2 separate regions of the Homo sapiens genome follow, and region 2 is linked to region 1. The links come from fine-mapping of genetic effects on gene expression. A gene starts in region 1. The other region holds a variant in brackets. All regions are shown on one strand. Distances are between the middles of the regions. Region 1 holds the start of ISLR2 (immunoglobulin superfamily containing leucine rich repeat 2). Region 2 overlaps ISLR (immunoglobulin superfamily containing leucine rich repeat).

Region 1 (8,320 bases):
ATCTGGTTTCTACATATACCCATGGTGTGTGTGTGTGCAAAGGGGGTGGTGGTGGTGAAGAGGTCTGGGGGCAGAGCCAAGGTGCTCCCCTGTGGAGGAGGCAGGACACAAGCCTGTAGGGGTGTGTGCAGCAGAACCTTTTATCAAACTTGTGTCCCACTCTGCAAGGCAATAATAATGGCTAATTCAGCTATTATATAAAAAACGTATCTCAAGTACTGAGCACTAAGTGTCAGGTACTAAGTGCTTTGCGTACATTGATTCATTTAATCCTCAAGGTGACCGAAAAGCATAGGTATTTTTTTTTTTTTTTTTTTTTTTTTGAGACAGAGTCTCGCTCTGTCGCCCAGGCCGGAATGCAGTGGCACTATCTCGGCTCACTGCAACCTCTGCCTCCCGAGATTCTCCTGCCTCAGCCTCCTGAGTAGCTGGGATTACAGGCATGCACCACCACGCCCGGCTAATTTTTGTATTTTTAGCAGAGACGAGGTTTCACCATGTTGGTCAGGCTGGTCTCGAACTCCTGACCTTGTGATCCGCCCGCCTGGGCCTCCCAAAGTGCTGGGATTATTACAGGTGTGAGCCACCGCGCCTGGTCAGTACTCTTATTTATGCCTTTTTTTCTTGAGGCACAGAGAGGTTAAATAGCTTGGCTAAGGACACACAGTCAGTACATAATGGAGTCTGACGCTAGGACCTGCCCGCCTGACGACTACATAGAACCTGTACAAGGAAAGGCCGGAGGAGGGAGTATAAACAGGGCCTGGCTTCCCTGAGGAGTGATCTTTCGACTGGAAATTAGAAAAGGAAAGCAGCTTCTTGAGGGTGTGGGGCTGGAGAGAACATTTGTGTGTGTGTGTGTGTGTGTGTGTGTGTGTGTGTGTGTGTGTGTGTGTGTGTGTGTCTGTGCGCGCAGAAGCTGAAAGATGGGAAGTAGTGAGTGTTCAGGGGCTTCTGACTGGAGGGCAGCCTTGGGGAAGGTCTCCGCAGCCTTAACCGGCTGCTATGCTGGGGATGTTTGATGCCCATCTGGGCCCCGGCTTTCTTATTCTCAGAGGCCCTTCCCACATCTTTAGGCAAGTCCATTAAATCCTCCGCGTGCCACATTAAAATACAAGGGCAAGTACAACTCTGAGTGCAGTTGCAACAGAATCGTTTGCACAATGTCGCATGTCTTAAACATTCAATCAAACATCGATTACTTCCAATTTTGCAGTTTTCTTTGCCCCTGTTAGCGCCAACAGATTTTTTTTTCCAGATCTCAGACATTTATTTTAATAGGCCCCTGACAAAGTCATAAGACTCAGAGAGAAGGGAGAGTGGGAGAGGTGTATAGGAAGGTTTTGTGCCAGGGACTAGTCGCTCAAGAATTAGGAGACGCCCTGGGCACTGGAAACTACGCAGCGCGAAGTAGGGACAGCGCCTGTGTTGTGTAGTGGACCAGAGGTTGCTGATACCTGGGACATAGACTGGGTGGGCACGGGAAGTAAAGCCTCGGGACTTTGGTTAAGCGCGCCCCACTGGCGTATCGCGCCGCGGGACTGCAGAGCCGTGAGCAGCGGTCGCCTTGGTGCAGGGTTCCAGCCACATCTTCCTCGCCCAGCCAGCACCCTCTGCCGTTGACCCGCCTCTGCGCCCGGCAAGCGGCTTCCAGCAGGGGGCGCGCGCGGACCAGGCTTGGGCCCTAGAACAGCGCGGATGGAGTCGCTGGAGCAAGTCCCCAGATCCAACCGGTTTCAACCCTCCCCACCCTCCCGACGCTCCGGGTTCGCGACGTTGAAGTTAAGGGTCGATCCGCAGAAAGCGGCCAGGGGCTCCAGCTCTCCATTCCTGGGTCTGTCTGGGGTCGGCTCCAGCCTGGTTAGAAGCCTTAGTCTGGATTCGGCAGATTCTGAATCTGGGACCCTCTGCGCTAGCGGCTTGGAACCTTGTCACCCTCCCCTCCCCCACCCCTACTTCCACACACCTGATTAGTTGTCTGTTTCTTTAATGATCAAAGACGTGGGCGGCGGCGGGATGAGGTCTTGGTTCCCGGCTCCACAGCCCTCCCTAACTGTCATTATTAACGTTATAAACATTAGACCCGCTTCTGCGCGCCGGACGGCGCCGGACGAGGTGCGCGCAGTCTTCTAGCTGAGCTCGGAGGCAGATCCAGAAGTCGCGGCTCCCACCCCAGGCCTCGGCGGACTCTGCCTGGGGCGACTCGGGCTCCAGCCCTGCCCGGGCGGGCACTGGGCTCTCCAGGGTCGAAGGCAGGGGTAAGGGGCGTCTTTCCCCCAGGGCAGCCTCCGGGAACAAAAGCATTTGCTGTAGAGTGAGCTAGAGCCTCCGGGCCCGCGGGAGTCAGCTCCCGCCCAGGGGTGGTCACCGCGTCCTTAACCACCCCAGGAGCCCCGTCTCCCTGCCGAACTCCTTGGCTTCTGCAACCCTGTCAAGACAGCAAGGAAAGGGGGTCTTCCCTGGTCCTCGGGCCCCGAAGTTTCGGGGTTGCTTATAGGACGGGTTCCTGCAGTCCAGGGAAGCTCTGGGCAGATAGCGAGCCCATTCTCCCTTCCATTACCCAGATTCTGCCTCCCTGCGGAAGGCAAAAAAGAAAGAAAGAAAATAGGTAAAAACCGGCGGAGGGCCTTGAGCCTCCCCGCCTGGCGCCCCTCACTCAGTCCCGAAAAGTCCCCTGGACACGCCATGCCGGACCGGACTCAGCTCCCGCTGCTGGGCCCCTGCCTCCAAATATCCTTCCCAGGCACAGGCTCCCAAGACCGCCCCCTCAGGGTTCCCAACACCCGGACAACTGCCCAAGACGCCGCTCCCCGCCCCCACCCCCACCTTGTTCGGCAGACAAAGAAGGGTGTGCTGGCCCCGCCGTCTGCCTCCTTCTCCCGACCCCACAAGGCCTAGAAACCTCAGGGACTCACCCCGGGCTAGGGACCCAATCCTGGCTGTCCCACCACAGGATCCCCGGCAGGGACGGGTCACAGTGCTCTCACCCCTCGACCATTTTCGAAGACACCTTCCCTGAAAGGCGCCTTGCGCCCTCCCCATGGGTCGGCGGGGGGGGACTCCAGGCCCGAGCAGGCGGTGTGAAGTTCTGTGTTCTGAACTGGGGCTGAGCAAGATGCGATGGTCTCAGCCCGCTGGGCCGCCCGTAGCGACGGCAGGAGTAGGGGAGAGGGAGGGACGCTTGGAGTGTGAGCGCACCAGTCTGTTCATATTTAATTTACAAAGCAGCCTCGGAACCCCGGGCCGGGTGGTCTCTTTAGACGCTGCGCTCTTAGCCTGTCTCTCTTCCCCACCCCCTCCCCTAGCTCATTAAGATGCTCAACACTCAAATCGGGGTATTGATCTCCACGGAAGCCCCAAACCCTCGCCATCGAGAGACCCCCATGGCCCGGGGTGATGGCTGTGGGGCTTGGTGCTCCCAGAGAGCTCAGTGGCTACAGAATGGGTGGGGATTCTGCGTGTCTCCCGGAGCCTGAACCCCTTTCCTGGTTATGGCCGGTAGCTGTCTCCAGGGCTAACGTGGGCAGCGCAGGGGGGCGGAAACCGGGTTTTAGCCAAATGCCTCGACATCGCCGCGCCTCCGCCTCCTCGTCGCTGAAAGAAATGTCGGGGTTTCATCAGAGCTAGGGAGCGACAGTCGGGAACAGCGAGTCTGCCGAAGCCGGCTGTTGTGTGAGGGTGTGAGACGGCGGGGCGGTGAGGGGCCACCGCGGCTTGGGGGATAGTGCGTGTGGGGTTGACCGTGTGTCTGCTTGAGAGGCTGTGAAGATATGGGGGGCAGATATGGGAGAAATGCTCGGGCCTGAAGTCCCCAGCCCACCGTGCTCAAGAGTAGCGGACGTTTTGCCACCATCCTTGTCTGTGCTACTGTCTGCTGCAGCTTCCGTGCCCCGTTCTCCTGGAGCAGGCAAGACCTGGAGTGAGGTGCTTGGGTGCGCTCGAGAGAGCTTCCCCCTGCTCCACCTGTCCCGCGGTGCGCGCAGGCCAACGCGTCGGGCAGTGGGCTTCAAGCGCTGGTTTAGCCACAAAAGACCAGAAGTAAAGAGTTCCGGCTTAAGAGGCTGGGCAGGGCTGCGGTGGGCTGGGGAGGGGGGTGTCCCTTCCCAGCACGCCCTGCAGGGCTGTGCGTTCTGGTGTCGGGTTAGACTAGCAGGCGGGGCGGGGGGGTTGGGGCGGCGGGGCGGGGGAGACTAGGGCTTATATCAGCCCAGATCCAGGCAAAAATGGTAGGGAGGGTGCGGCGCTCTGCTAACACTATCAATTATGCATCATGTTGAACGTGGCTTCGGGGAGGAGGCGGCTAGCAGCGGGGGGTGCGGGAGGGAAGGGTCCGCGCGAGCTCGGCTGCGCGCAGCTCAGCGGGTCCCGCTCGAAGTCTGTCGGTGCCACCGCCTGCATTTGCAAAAAGAGTTTAAAGGCAAAGACACGCCTTCCCCCCCCACTTCAGCCGCGCGCCTTTCCTTCCCCCAAATTCCTCAAAGATGGTTTGTCTCACGTGTTGCAGGGCGTAAAAGCGGCTTGCATTCAATTAGCAGCGAAGCTCGCGGGCGCTGGCGGGACAGGCGCGTGAGGGTGAGTTCGCGTGAATGTGTGTATGCGTGTGCGAGAGGAGAACGGTAAGTGTCCCGGGTGCAGGTGTGCCCGTGAAAATGCGTGTGAATGTAGCAGGGGCTGAACACATTGATGCGATTATTACCTGACCATGGATGATTGTAAACTGTGAAGGTCGGCTATGGGGAGGGTGTGAGGGACTGTGTGCGCGAATGTGTTTGAACGTGGGGTGGGGGAGGTGGTGTGATCAGGGACAGTAACAATGCCAGCGGCTGTGTAAATGTGGGGGTACGTGGGTTATGGGGGTGCAGTAGGCTGCGAAGAGCCCAGCCAGGACAGTGGGCGTGGGATGCCCCTTATGACCGACGTGTCTTGGCCTTGGGGAGGGTCTCCGTGGCTTTAACAAAAGTAGACCAAGCAGGAGGCGGGAGAGGCTATGCGCGTCCCCGCCAGGCCCGGGAGTGCGCAAGGACTTTCTCCAACCTGCAGCCAGAGAGGTGGGGGAAACGGACGCAAAAGGAAAAATTGAAGTGGTACTTTGGGGCCACCAAGTCCCCAAACTTACCTGTCCCTTTCTTTGCCCCCCGCCCCCCGTTTTCCCCACAGCCACAACACATGCGTGTATCTTGCTTGGGCTATCTTCCCTGCTCTGCCACGCCGGGTCTGGAGAAGGGGTTTCAGCCCCAGGACATTTACTGAGAGTCGGCGAATATTGGGTAAGCAATGGGGGCCACCCCACAACCTTGACCCAGGTGGGGTTAGGTCCAGCCTAGGGCACCTGATGGGGTGCGGGGCTGGTGGGGGTGCTGTCTGGCAGGAACCGGGAAGGGAGGGAAGGGACCCTCCCAGAAGAGCAAAGGCAGAGTGAAGGAGCAGGTTCCCAAAGACAAGTTGTGGGAGGGGCTCTGCCAAACCTGACAGGCGCTCCAAATGGGGGCAGGGAGTCTGTGCAAGTTCGTTTGTGTGACCGGGCTTAAGGTGTTATGGGGAGGGGGTCCTTAGGCACCGCAGAGCTGTGGAGAAAGGCGCAGAATCTTTCATCTTCTCCAGCTTCATTAGCTAGTGGCAGCCCCATGACCTGTTGGCTGAGGACGCCTCTGCCCAATGGGAGCCGCCTGAGGGACCTGAGAGGAAGCTCTAGTGACCGCTTTCCCAACACACCTGGTCCAAACATGGGGGAGAACCTCCTTCCCCGTAAGGAAGGTTGGCAGAGCAGCCCTTCTTCTCCCCTCACAGGAGCTGCAGCCCCGGGCAGGTGACTTTGGCCTTAGATGCAGTAGGGCATGGGGATGGGCTTCCCCAGATCCCACATCTCAAGTCGTGCAGTGCAGGTCCTCCTATTGCTTCTCTGCTGGGTTTCGGTCACAGTGGAGGGCTGTATGCACACACAGGCACATGCCTGTGTTCTTGTGGGTGGGTCGGTTCGTGTGAGGACTTGTGTCCTTGTGTCTGTCAATTGTCACAATGGACAGGAAAGCGCTTTGTACCGTGGTGGAAAACACGTACAAATGCTGGTTAAGAGAACAATGAGGTCTGCAGGGTCTATTGTGTCCATGTCTGGGTGCATATGTGTTTGTGAGTTTAGGAAATGTGTTGTGAGCCTCCTAATTGAGCATCAGGTCCTCTAAACCCCTGCAGAAGTTGGCGGTTTGATTATGAAGCCCCGCGTCTGTTTGTATTGTTGTGTGCCTGCATGGGCGTGTGTGCGAGTGCTGTGCGTGGGACAAAGGTTCCAGGGAGGACAGCCAGTCACGGACAAAAATGTCCTTCTTGGGTAGGATCCATTTCACCAGGTTAAACGAAGGCTTAGAAACACAGAGAGGGGTACGTGAGGAGCCCGCTGGAGATGGGCGAGCTGCGGAGCCCACGGAGGGGCCAGCTCCAGCGTGAAGGAAGGAGTAGGAAGAGAAAAAAGGGCGATATACCGGGCCGCTGGAAAAGGAAATTAGGGCCCTGGGAGGGAGCATCCGTTGAACCTCGAGATTTTTATTGACCTTCACTTCAGAGAGGCTCCTGGCCATAGAGGAGGTTACCGGAGCCCTGGAACTAGTGCTAAACGGGCTTGCGGAGGCACAGCTTGATAGGGGAGGTAAGCTGGGGTTCAGTGAGTCACCTTCTTTCTTCTTCACCTGGCTTCCATCTGCAGGAGCCGCGATGTTCCCCCTTCGGGCCCTGTGGTTGGTCTGGGCGCTTCTAGGAGTGGCCGGATCATGCCCGGAGCCGTGCGCCTGCGTGGACAAGTACGCTCACCAGTTCGCGGACTGCGCTTACAAAGAGTTGCGTGAGGTGCCGGAAGGACTGCCTGCCAACGTGACGACGCTTAGTCTGTCCGCGAACAAGATCACTGTGCTGCGGCGCGGGGCCTTCGCCGACGTCACACAGGTCACGTCGCTGTGGCTGGCGCACAATGAGGTGCGCACCGTGGAGCCAGGCGCACTGGCCGTGCTGAGTCAGCTCAAGAACCTCGATCTGAGCCACAACTTCATATCCAGCTTTCCGTGGAGCGACCTGCGCAACCTGAGCGCGCTGCAGCTGCTCAAAATGAACCACAACCGCCTGGGCTCTCTGCCCCGGGACGCACTCGGTGCGCTACCCGACCTGCGTTCCCTGCGCATCAACAACAACCGGCTGCGTACGCTGGCGCCTGGCACCTTCGACGCGCTTAGCGCGCTGTCACACTTGCAACTCTATCACAATCCCTTCCACTGCGGCTGCGGCCTTGTGTGGCTGCAGGCCTGGGCCGCGAGCACCCGGGTGTCCTTACCCGAGCCCGACTCCATTGCTTGTGCCTCGCCTCCCGCGCTGCAGGGGGTGCCGGTGTACCGCCTGCCCGCCCTGCCCTGTGCACCGCCCAGCGTGCATCTGAGTGCCGAGCCACCGCTTGAAGCACCCGGCACCCCACTGCGCGCAGGACTGGCGTTCGTGTTACACTGCATCGCCGACGGCCACCCTACGCCTCGCCTGCAATGGCAACTTCAGATCCCCGGTGGCACCGTAGTCTTAGAGCCACCGGTTCTGAGCGGGGAGGACGACGGGGTTGGGGCGGAGGAAGGAGAGGGAGAAGGAGATGGGGATTTGCTGACGCAGACCCAAGCCCAAACGCCGACTCCAGCACCCGCTTGGCCGGCGCCCCCAGCCACACCGCGCTTCCTGGCCCTCGCAAATGGCTCCCTGTTGGTGCCCCTCCTGAGTGCCAAGGAGGCGGGCGTCTACACTTGCCGTGCACACAATGAGCTGGGCGCCAACTCTACGTCAATACGCGTGGCGGTGGCAGCAACCGGGCCCCCAAAACACGCGCCTGGCGCCGGGGGAGAACCCGACGGACAGGCCCCGACCTCTGAGCGCAAGTCCACAGCCAAGGGCCGGGGCAACAGCGTCCTGCCTTCCAAACCCGAGGGCAAAATCAAAGGCCAAGGCCTGGCCAAGGTCAGCATTCTCGGGGAGACCGAGACGGAGCCGGAGGAGGACACAAGTGAGGGAGAGGAGGCCGAAGACCAGATCCTCGCGGACCCGGCGGAGGAGCAGCGCTGTGGCAACGGGGACCCCTCTCGGTACGTTTCTAACCACGCGTTCAACCAGAGCGCAGAGCTCAAGCCGCACGTCTTCGAGCTGGGCGTCATCGCGCTGGATGTGGCGGAGCGCGAGGCGCGGGTGCAGCTGACTCCGCTGGCTGCGCGCTGGGGCCCTGGGCCCGGCGGGGCTGGCGGAGCCCCGCGACCCGGGCGGCGACCCCTGCGCCTACTCTATCTGTGTCCAGCGGGGGGCGGCG
Region 2 (8,320 bases), 50 kb after region 1:
GCAGGTTCCATGGCAAAGCGGTTGAGGGAAAGGGCTGCTATACGGTTGACAACGAGGTGCAGCCATCAGGGCCGGAGGACAATGTGGTCATCATCTACCTCAGCCGTGCTGGGAACCCTGAGGCTGCAGTCGCAGAAGGGGTCCCTGGGCAGCTGCCCCCAGGCCTGCTCCTGCTGGGCCAAAGCCTCCTCCTCTTCTTCTTCCTCACCTCCTTCTAGCCCCACCCAGGGCTTCCCTAACTCCTCCCCTTGCCCCTACCAATGCCCCTTTAAGTGCTGCAGGGGTCTGGGGTTGGCAACTCCTGAGGCCTGCATGGGTGACTTCACATTTTCCTACCTCTCCTTCTAATCTCTTCTAGAGCACCTGCTATCCCCAACTTCTAGACCTGCTCCAAACTAGTGACTAGGATAGAATTTGATCCCCTAACTCACTGTCTGCGGTGCTCATTGCTGCTAACAGCATTGCCTGTGCTCTCCTCTCAGGGGCAGCATGCTAACGGGGCGACGTCCTAATCCAACTGGGAGAAGCCTCAGTGGTGGAATTCCAGGCACTGTGACTGTCAAGCTGGCAAGGGCCAGGATTGGGGGAATGGAGCTGGGGCTTAGCTGGGAGGTGGTCTGAAGCAGACAGGGAATGGGAGAGGAGGATGGGAAGTAGACAGTGGCTGGTATGGCTCTGAGGCTCCCTGGGGCCTGCTCAAGCTCCTCCTGCTCCTTGCTGTTTTCTGATGATTTGGGGGCTTGGGAGTCCCTTTGTCCTCATCTGAGACTGAAATGTGGGGATCCAGGATGGCCTTCCTTCCTCTTACCCTTCCTCCCTCAGCCTGCAACCTCTATCCTGGAACCTGTCCTCCCTTTCTCCCCAACTATGCATCTGTTGTCTGCTCCTCTGCAAAGGCCAGCCAGCTTGGGAGCAGCAGAGAAATAAACAGCATTTCTGATGCCCCTCCGTGTCTGCCTGGAATTTTGTCTGGATCTAGGAGCCTCTGCTGGGAGATAGGATCAGGAGCTGAAGAGTCAGGGCAGCCAGCCTGCCTGCCCACAGTGGCAGGGGCCTCTGAGACTCCAACAGACTGTGGAGGCACAGGAGTGCTGGCCCGATGCTGTGTCAGGGGCTGGGCCTTGCGGTGAGCTGAGCTGCAGATGTTCCCTTCCTCCAAACCATCCCACAGGACAGCTGGGGGCAGGAGCCTGGGGTGGCTGGCGACCCTGAGCAGCGCCTGATGTCAGCAGTGGCTTCAAGAGAGGCATTTTGGAAAGGCGCAAGGAAATGGAAGTGCCTGGGTGGTAGCTCCTCTTCCCTGTCCTGCTCCTGGAAGAGATGTTAGGAATGAAGAGGAAAGAGGGGACAGGTGGGGCAAGATGGAGGAGACAGATGAGGAGAAGGGGACACAGGACAGAGGAGGAGAAAGCCCCAGAGAGACTGGGAATAAGAGAACATATTTACATATTTGAGGGAGAAACCAGGGGGGAAACAAATCGTACTTATCTTTCTCCCAAAGAAGAAATGGTATTCCAAGAGGAAAGTCCAAATGAGGACTGCAGATTCCCTGTAGGAATCTTTCCCCACAGAGCAAGTGGATCAGTAACTGGCCTGGGCCGTGTGTGTGTGTGTGTGTGTGTGTGTGTGTGTGTGTGTACAGCAACCTGAGCGGTGCGTGTGTGTGTGTGTACAGCAACCTTCAGCCTCTCCAGTGCATGTGTGTGTGTGTGTGTACAGCAACCTTCAGCCTCTCCAGATGAGGAGCATAAGGATGAGGTCCTAACCTGGAGACTCTGCACAACCTCCTATCTGTGCCAGGTAGGATATATGTCTTCCTACTGCCTCTATCCCATCCCTTTCAAGATCGAGGATGCTGCATGCAGAGACAATGGCCTGGGGGAGAGGCTCTGTGGCCTTTCTCCAGAGCTCCCAGAACTGCTGAGCTCAGCAAAGTGGAGGCAGGATGCTAAGGAGTCTGGGGTAGCAGCTGTGAGCCTTGGCTGCTGGCCAGCCCCATTCCCTCCCTCCAGGTCCACATACAGCACCTCCCCCTGCCCACTCTCCCCTCATCAACTTGCAGCTCCTGCTGAGCTGATGTCACCAGCAGCATGTATCAAGAATGACTCCTAATCTAAAATAAAAGTTGAAAAAAATGACTCACGTCTGGTGGAAAACAGCAGGATGGAGCCAAATTCCATGCGCTAGGCCACCTTGGGTAAGTCATTGCCCACGTCTGGGCTTCAGTTGCCTCAAAAACCAAATGACATGGTAGGACTAGGTGCTACTTCATGGTCCAATAGACTCTGATTGCCTAAGGCTTGATATTCCCAGCCTGACTTGGACATCCCTGGCTCCATTCCTAGCTGAGTGGCTTGGCTTCTTGGAGTAGGACATGGACCTAAGACCTAACACAGGGAATGGCTGTGCCTTGAGTGGACTAGCTGCTCCCCTGCTTTAAGGTCTTCCGTGGTCCCCACTGCCCTCCAGGTAAAGCCTGAATTCCCCACTTAGAGCCTCTCTGACCTGCTCCTCCAACAAGCGCACCCTTCCTTCCTCTTCTTGGAACAGCTATTTAATTGTTCCCTTAATGTTCCATGGTGTGCCATCCTCTGCACCTTTGCTTATACTGTTCCCTCCGCCCAGGCACCCTTTCCCTGTTCTTCATTTGGCTAAGTCAGTCTTTGAGAGTGGGCTCTGGCATCACCACCTCCAGAAAGCCTTCCTGGATGTTCCCCCATCCCCAATGTGAACAGGCCCCCTTTCTCTGGGAACCTGGATTCTCCTCCCCTGAGACCCTGTTAGTTGCTGAAACAAGGTCAGGAAGCCTTTTTCAACGGGCTGCAGTGGGATCACAGTGTGCCCTCTTTGGCCTCCTCGGGGCAGCCTTGAAAGTGGGTTTCAGGTCCCTGACCCCACCCCTGGCTTTACAGGTATTTGAGGCTGTAGCAGGAACCTGAGCTTGGGGCAGGGGACTGTTGATCTCCACTAACTGTGCAGGCATTTCTCAAGGCCCTGCTGACCTAGATCTGTAGGGTGGCCACATCTTCCTACCCTCTGTAGCCCCCAGCCCCTCAGTGGACCCAGGGCATGTTCTTTATTCATATACCCCGCCCTCCACCTCCACCAAGCCCCCAGTAGGGAAAAGACCCCAGTCTGTCTCCACCCTCCTTTCCCCTCCGTATTCTCATTCTCCTCCCATCAGGACAGCCTACGCTATGTCCCCCCATGTGACACGCCCCTTCCTACCTCCACACCTGGAGTCACACTGCTTCCCCAGCATTCCTGAAGTCGCTTCTCCTCCCCAGATCCTGCCCCTTCTTCAAGACCCAGAATAAGTCCCACTTCCAAAGCCAGCATTCACATGGCTCAGGGGTGGCATCATAGGGTCCCCAGTCTCTTTGCCACCCAAAAGGATGCAGCTATGGGTTCTGCCTTCCACCCAGTGTCTGGCCCAGCATGTGACCAGAACACCCCAAGCCCCATCCCCATCAATGCACAGTGTTCCTGACAGTGTAGGCGGGGTTTTCCCTGCATACCCCTCCCGCTATGAGGACAGTTTCTCAGGAACAAGTTTATTGCAGGGAACACACTAACCTCTTTCATAATAGCCAAAGGCATAAAAACTACAAAAATATCTGGCTCTCGAGTGTGGGCAGCTCAGTGTGGGACCTGGTCTGAGTCATGACTTGGGCTGCCCTGCAGGCCAGAGGCCCGGGAGCTTTCCGGCCACTCCCCAGAGAGGTCCGTGGCGCTGAGGGGGTGAGGAAGTGCCTTGGCTGCTTCCACAGCGTGAAGGCCAAGGCTGAGGTGGAGCTGGGCTGGAGTGGTTCCAGAGAAGGCTTCATCGAGGCCCTTCAAGGCTGATGGCAGAGCCAGGGTAGGGAGACGCCTGGATGTGGCTGCCCTGGCTCAACTGGCTCCTGGACCAAGGCCCTAACCCACCAGTTTCTTTCTCCAGAACCCCTGCTGGCTCTCCCATAGCCAAGTGGGTGGAGCAGAGCCCTCCTGAGGCTCCCAGTGCAGACAGACCTCCACCCAACCACAGTGATCCGGAGGACCTGCTGGCTGCATGGCTGGTGTGATGCTGGGAGGAGAGCCGGGGAGGGAGGAGGATGGTAGGCAGGAACATGCCTCAGCACAGATGGGCAGGTGGGTTGACCTTCCCTGCCCTCAGGGCTGGGCACCATTGGCACCCAACAGGGCCGTCTTGCGGAAGACCTGCAGGGTTGGGTTGTGCAGCAGCGTGTAGGCCAGACCCCAGCGAGCCCTGCCGCGGCTGGCCCCGGGCCTAGCTCCCTTGGCCATGGAGTCCTTTGTCTGTAGCAGCTGCATCCCTGAGAGAGACGGACTTTCTGTGAGTCACTCAGCAAACACCCAGCCAACCCTCCCTGGCCCTCAGACCTGATCAGAGAGCCTGAAAATCCCAGGCGTGTGCAGGTCGTGAGGCTTAGGATGTCCCCTGCAG[G/A]CAGCACATGGAAGTGGGGGGTGAGGTCTGTGGATGGACTGGAAGCTGGGTGGGACAAGGGTCTGGAGCTGGCTTAGTGTCCCCTCCCTACACACACTTCTGGGCAGAAGGAAAGGAGGAGTCATACTCCCTGCCCCAAGGGAGAAGCGGGGGCAGTGACGGAGCCCCTTAGGAAGGCAGCTGTTTCATTCTCTCTGTGTGCACACATATGGTGTGTGTATGTGTGTGTTCATATCATGGAAAAAATCACCCTGAGATCAGACCAGGAGGGGTGACCAAAGGCAGCCAAGGAAGAGAGGAAGTGAGAATTTTCCTGGCGCTCACTCTGTGTGCTGGGGAGGGGCACACATCCTTCCTAGAAGAAGCTGGGTAGGCTCTATTCCCCCATTCCCAGTGGGAGGGCGCACCTTCGTCTTCCTCCCCTGGTCTGAGGCTGTCCTGGGGGGCTGCCATGGTCCTGGGTAGGAGGCTCTGCGCTTGCAGGAGCAGGGAGCAGAAGGCTGTCATGGCTGGATGCGACTGGCTGACTTCAATCTTCAAGAAGTTTCGGTACGTGTAGTAGCCTGGGGTGGGGTGGCGGATGGCAATGCTGGGGGAGCAGGGGCCACACTGGAGGCATCCAGACATCCCCTAACACACACACAGGGAGTGCACGTGCACTCCCTGCATCCAAGCATGTCGACACACCAAGCACGTGGCACATTGGCTGCATGGGCACGTGTGGACCTGCTAGAACACCCCACATCCACTGCACGTGCTGCAGGGCCACAGGAGGCACAGCGCAGGGGCACACAGGTGGCACATGCAGCTACAGGCATCGGTGTGAACTGATCAGCTGGCACGGCCCTGGGGCAGGGCAGATGCCTTCCTCACTGCTTGGGTAGCCTGAGCAATCCTCCAGCCCCGCCCAGTGACCTTACCGGGGTCGAGAGTGGCGGCTCTCGGTGGCAGCAGGCTGAGGTCCATCTGGCCAAGGTGGATGGCGTTGTAGAGGGCAGAGAGGAGCACTCGCCAGGTGGCCACCATGGCACCCACCAGCACATTGAGGGGGAAGAGAAGAAAGGTGGCTGCATAGAGCACTCGCCTAGGATGGGAGAAGAAAGCTGAGGCAGGCCGTTCCCCAGAGCTCCCTCCCCAGGGTCAGTGTCAGACCTGGATGCCCAGAACTGCTGTGTATTTACTGAGTGCCTACCATTTATTGCTATGTCTTCTGTGCACCCCACCCTGGGCAAGGCCTTCTCTCTTTCAACCCACCATGCTGGGAGATGGGAAACTGAGGCCCAGAGAGATTGGGAGACTTAGCCAAGGCTGTCAGCTATTCAGTGGCAGAGCTGGGCTTTAACTCTAGGTCCATCTGAGTCTTTCTATGACCCTGATGCCTCCCACCTCCCTTTTCTGGGTCCCCTGTCTGCTAATTCCAAGTTCCCCTGGGAGCCAAGGTTCTCCCACAGACTTGTCATCTGACAGGGAACTCCCTTGCTACAAAGTGGGGAGGGGCATGGTTTTAAGGAAACAGAGGATCCAGGGGAGAGCAGTACCGATTCCCAAAGCAAGAAAGGTTCACGGGGGTACTTCCAGCCCCATGCCGGGTATGTAGAGAGGTACTTTGGAGTGGGCTGAGCCATTGTCCCTTTTCTCTATGGGTAAGGCAAGCTCTTTCTACTATCATCTGGGTTCCTTGATAGAGAGAAGGGATAGATGGCAGTGGAGGGAGGACACAAAAAGAGAGAGACACCGAAGAAGAGGCGAGGGCCTGAGGGAGCCACAAGCCCAGATGCCACCTCACCGGTTGGTCAGCTGTGGGTGTCCATCATGAGTCTCCAGGAAGACCCAATGGGCTGCCATGTTCTGCAGGATCACAGCCAGGGCCAAAGTCAGCCAGAAGGGCCTGCCAGTGGGGTGGGGAGGTGGTCGCTGTTAGCGGACCTCTAAGGAGTCCCTGAGCCCTCCATGTCTTGTTTCACTCACCACGAGGACTCCAGGGAACGGAAGAGCAGGAGGTTCCTGCCATGGAGCACAGGCATGAGCACCAGGAAGGCCAGGGCCGTGGTTCCCAGGAAGAAGATGATCTGCTGCACCAGGAGCCCTGCCAGGGGCGGGAGTGGCAGGGGGACAGAAAACAGGTTCCATGAAAACTGGCCATCCCCGCTGCCCCCAGAACCAAGGGCTTTGGGATTGGGCAGGCCTGGTTTTAGATCTCTGCTCTGCCACTGCCTAGCTATGCTGCCTTGAACAAATCACTTTACTTCATTGAGCCTCAGTTTCTTCCTCTGTAAAATGGGGATAATAGTCCCTACCTCAGAGGCTGTTGTAAGGATCCAATGAGATAATGTCTGTGGAAACTCTTAAAATCACAAAATACTTTGCAAATGTTATTTCCCTCCAGTTTCTCCTGAGTTTGAGTTACTGGGGGATAAGGCTACATATTAAACTGATGTTTGCATTCCTTCAAGCCAGAGCCTGGCATACGGTAGGTGCCCAAGGACTGTCTATTGAAATAATCTGGCCAACTGATTAGAGAATGATGTCTACAAAAGGGCCTGGAGGCATAAGGGCTACCAAGAAGAGACGCTATGACTTTTGTCCTAGTAATTCATCTACTCCTTTACCATCCTTCTCCTCCCGCAAGGAGGTGAGAATGGAAGGAACTGGAGGGAGAGATACAAGGCCCTTGGATGTGCAACCCAGGCCACAGCCCCTCACCATTCAGAGTGCTTTTCTCACTGCAGTACCCAAGGGGAGAGTCAGAAACTTGGGGCTGGTAGGGGTCCTGGAAGGTTATCTGGTCCAACTCTCTCAGGGCAGGACCCCCTTTGCAGACTGCAACAATATCCATGGAACTCTGCTTGCATACCCCCAGTGACAGGGATCTCATTACCTTTGTAGGTAGCCAAATGTGACACAGCCCTTTCTTAAGCTGGAGCGCAGTGGTGCAATCTCGGCTCACTGCAACCTCCACCTCCTGGGTTCAAGCGATTCTCCTGCCTCATCCTCCCGAATAGCTGGAACTGCAGGTGCACACCACCATACCCGGCTAATTTTTGTATTTTTAGTAGAGACGGGGTCTCACCATGTTGGCCAGGCTGGTCTTCATCTCCTGACTTCGTGATCCACCTGCCTCAGCCTCCCAAAGTGCTGGGATTACAGGTGTGAGCCACTGAGCCCAGCCAGGAATGTACCATTTTGAATTTGACACCTCCAGACCTGGGTCCACCCCCATGTGAATACTTGGTGGCACCCAGGGTTCATCTCCATGTGGAGGGTACACACTCAATTTCCCGAGGGCTCCTGTACCCCCATCCTGAATAAGCTTCTTAAGGGCAGGGAAGGCAGGGGGGTCCCTCCTTCTTGCTGCTGCCCCAGAGCATTCCCAGACAAACTCTGAGGGCAGTACTTGCTGAGCACTCTTCTCCCCAACTGAGGCCAGTGTCTGAGGGGAGGCCCAGGCCAAGGCTGGGTGTGGCGGGCAAGGGAGGCTCACCAAGGCAGATAAAGGCTGTCTGGTAGGCACTGAAGCTCATCCAACAGAATATGGCTTGGCGGGAGGGATGGGGACTCCGATGCAAGGGACTCAAGTCCAGGGCAGCTCCTCGGTGCAGAGCTCGAAGGTTGGTCCTGGGGTGGGAGCCAGGGAGGCAGAGACCTCAGGGAGCAACACACTCTTCCTAAATCCTCCTCTGGGCCAGCAACTGGCCAAACTCCCAATAGAATTTCAACTCACAGCCATCAGCAGGGAAGCCCAGAACTGTGGGAGCCAGGAGGAGGCCACTAACCCAAGATATCTGGAAGAGGTGATATCTGGGTAGTCTTAAACAGTGAACGAGGAATACAAAACGAGGCAGAAGGCTCAACCTGAGCCAAGTCAGAAAAGTG

What was found.
Region 2: its variant is fine-mapped to the expression of ISLR2 in left ventricle (GTEx, PIP 0.90).

Annotation. Positions count from the first base shown.
Region 1 is chr15:74,126,050-74,134,369 of GRCh38, forward strand. ISLR2 (immunoglobulin superfamily containing leucine rich repeat 2) reads left to right here and starts at 4,537. Exons shown (of 3, transcript NM_020851.3): 1 at 4,537-4,572; 2 at 5,158-5,267; 3 at 6,698-8,320. The coding sequence starts at 6,706. It overlaps LOC283731 (a long non-coding RNA gene), which reads right to left and starts at 3,229. Exons shown (of 3, transcript NR_152622.1): 1 at 2,916-3,229; 2 at 1,967-2,575; 3 at 324-1,684. RefSeq lists enhancers at 3,843-4,752, 4,753-5,661 and a silencer at 5,154-5,353.
Region 2 is chr15:74,175,928-74,184,247 of GRCh38, forward strand. It overlaps ISLR (immunoglobulin superfamily containing leucine rich repeat), which reads left to right. Exons shown (of 2, transcript NM_005545.4): 2 at 1-944. The coding sequence ends at 218. STRA6 (signaling receptor and transporter of retinol STRA6) reads right to left here. Exons shown (of 19, transcript NM_022369.4): 14 at 7,929-8,062; 15 at 6,416-6,533; 16 at 6,234-6,335; 17 at 5,368-5,531; 18 at 4,855-5,010; 19 at 3,539-4,316. The coding sequence ends at 4,153. Among named protein-coding and RNA genes, the nearest start is that of ISLR, 6.4 kb to the left of the region's middle. RefSeq lists enhancers at 601-1,117, 3,025-3,194, 5,209-5,745, 8,250-8,320. The variant G/A (reference allele first, on the strand shown) is at 4,448.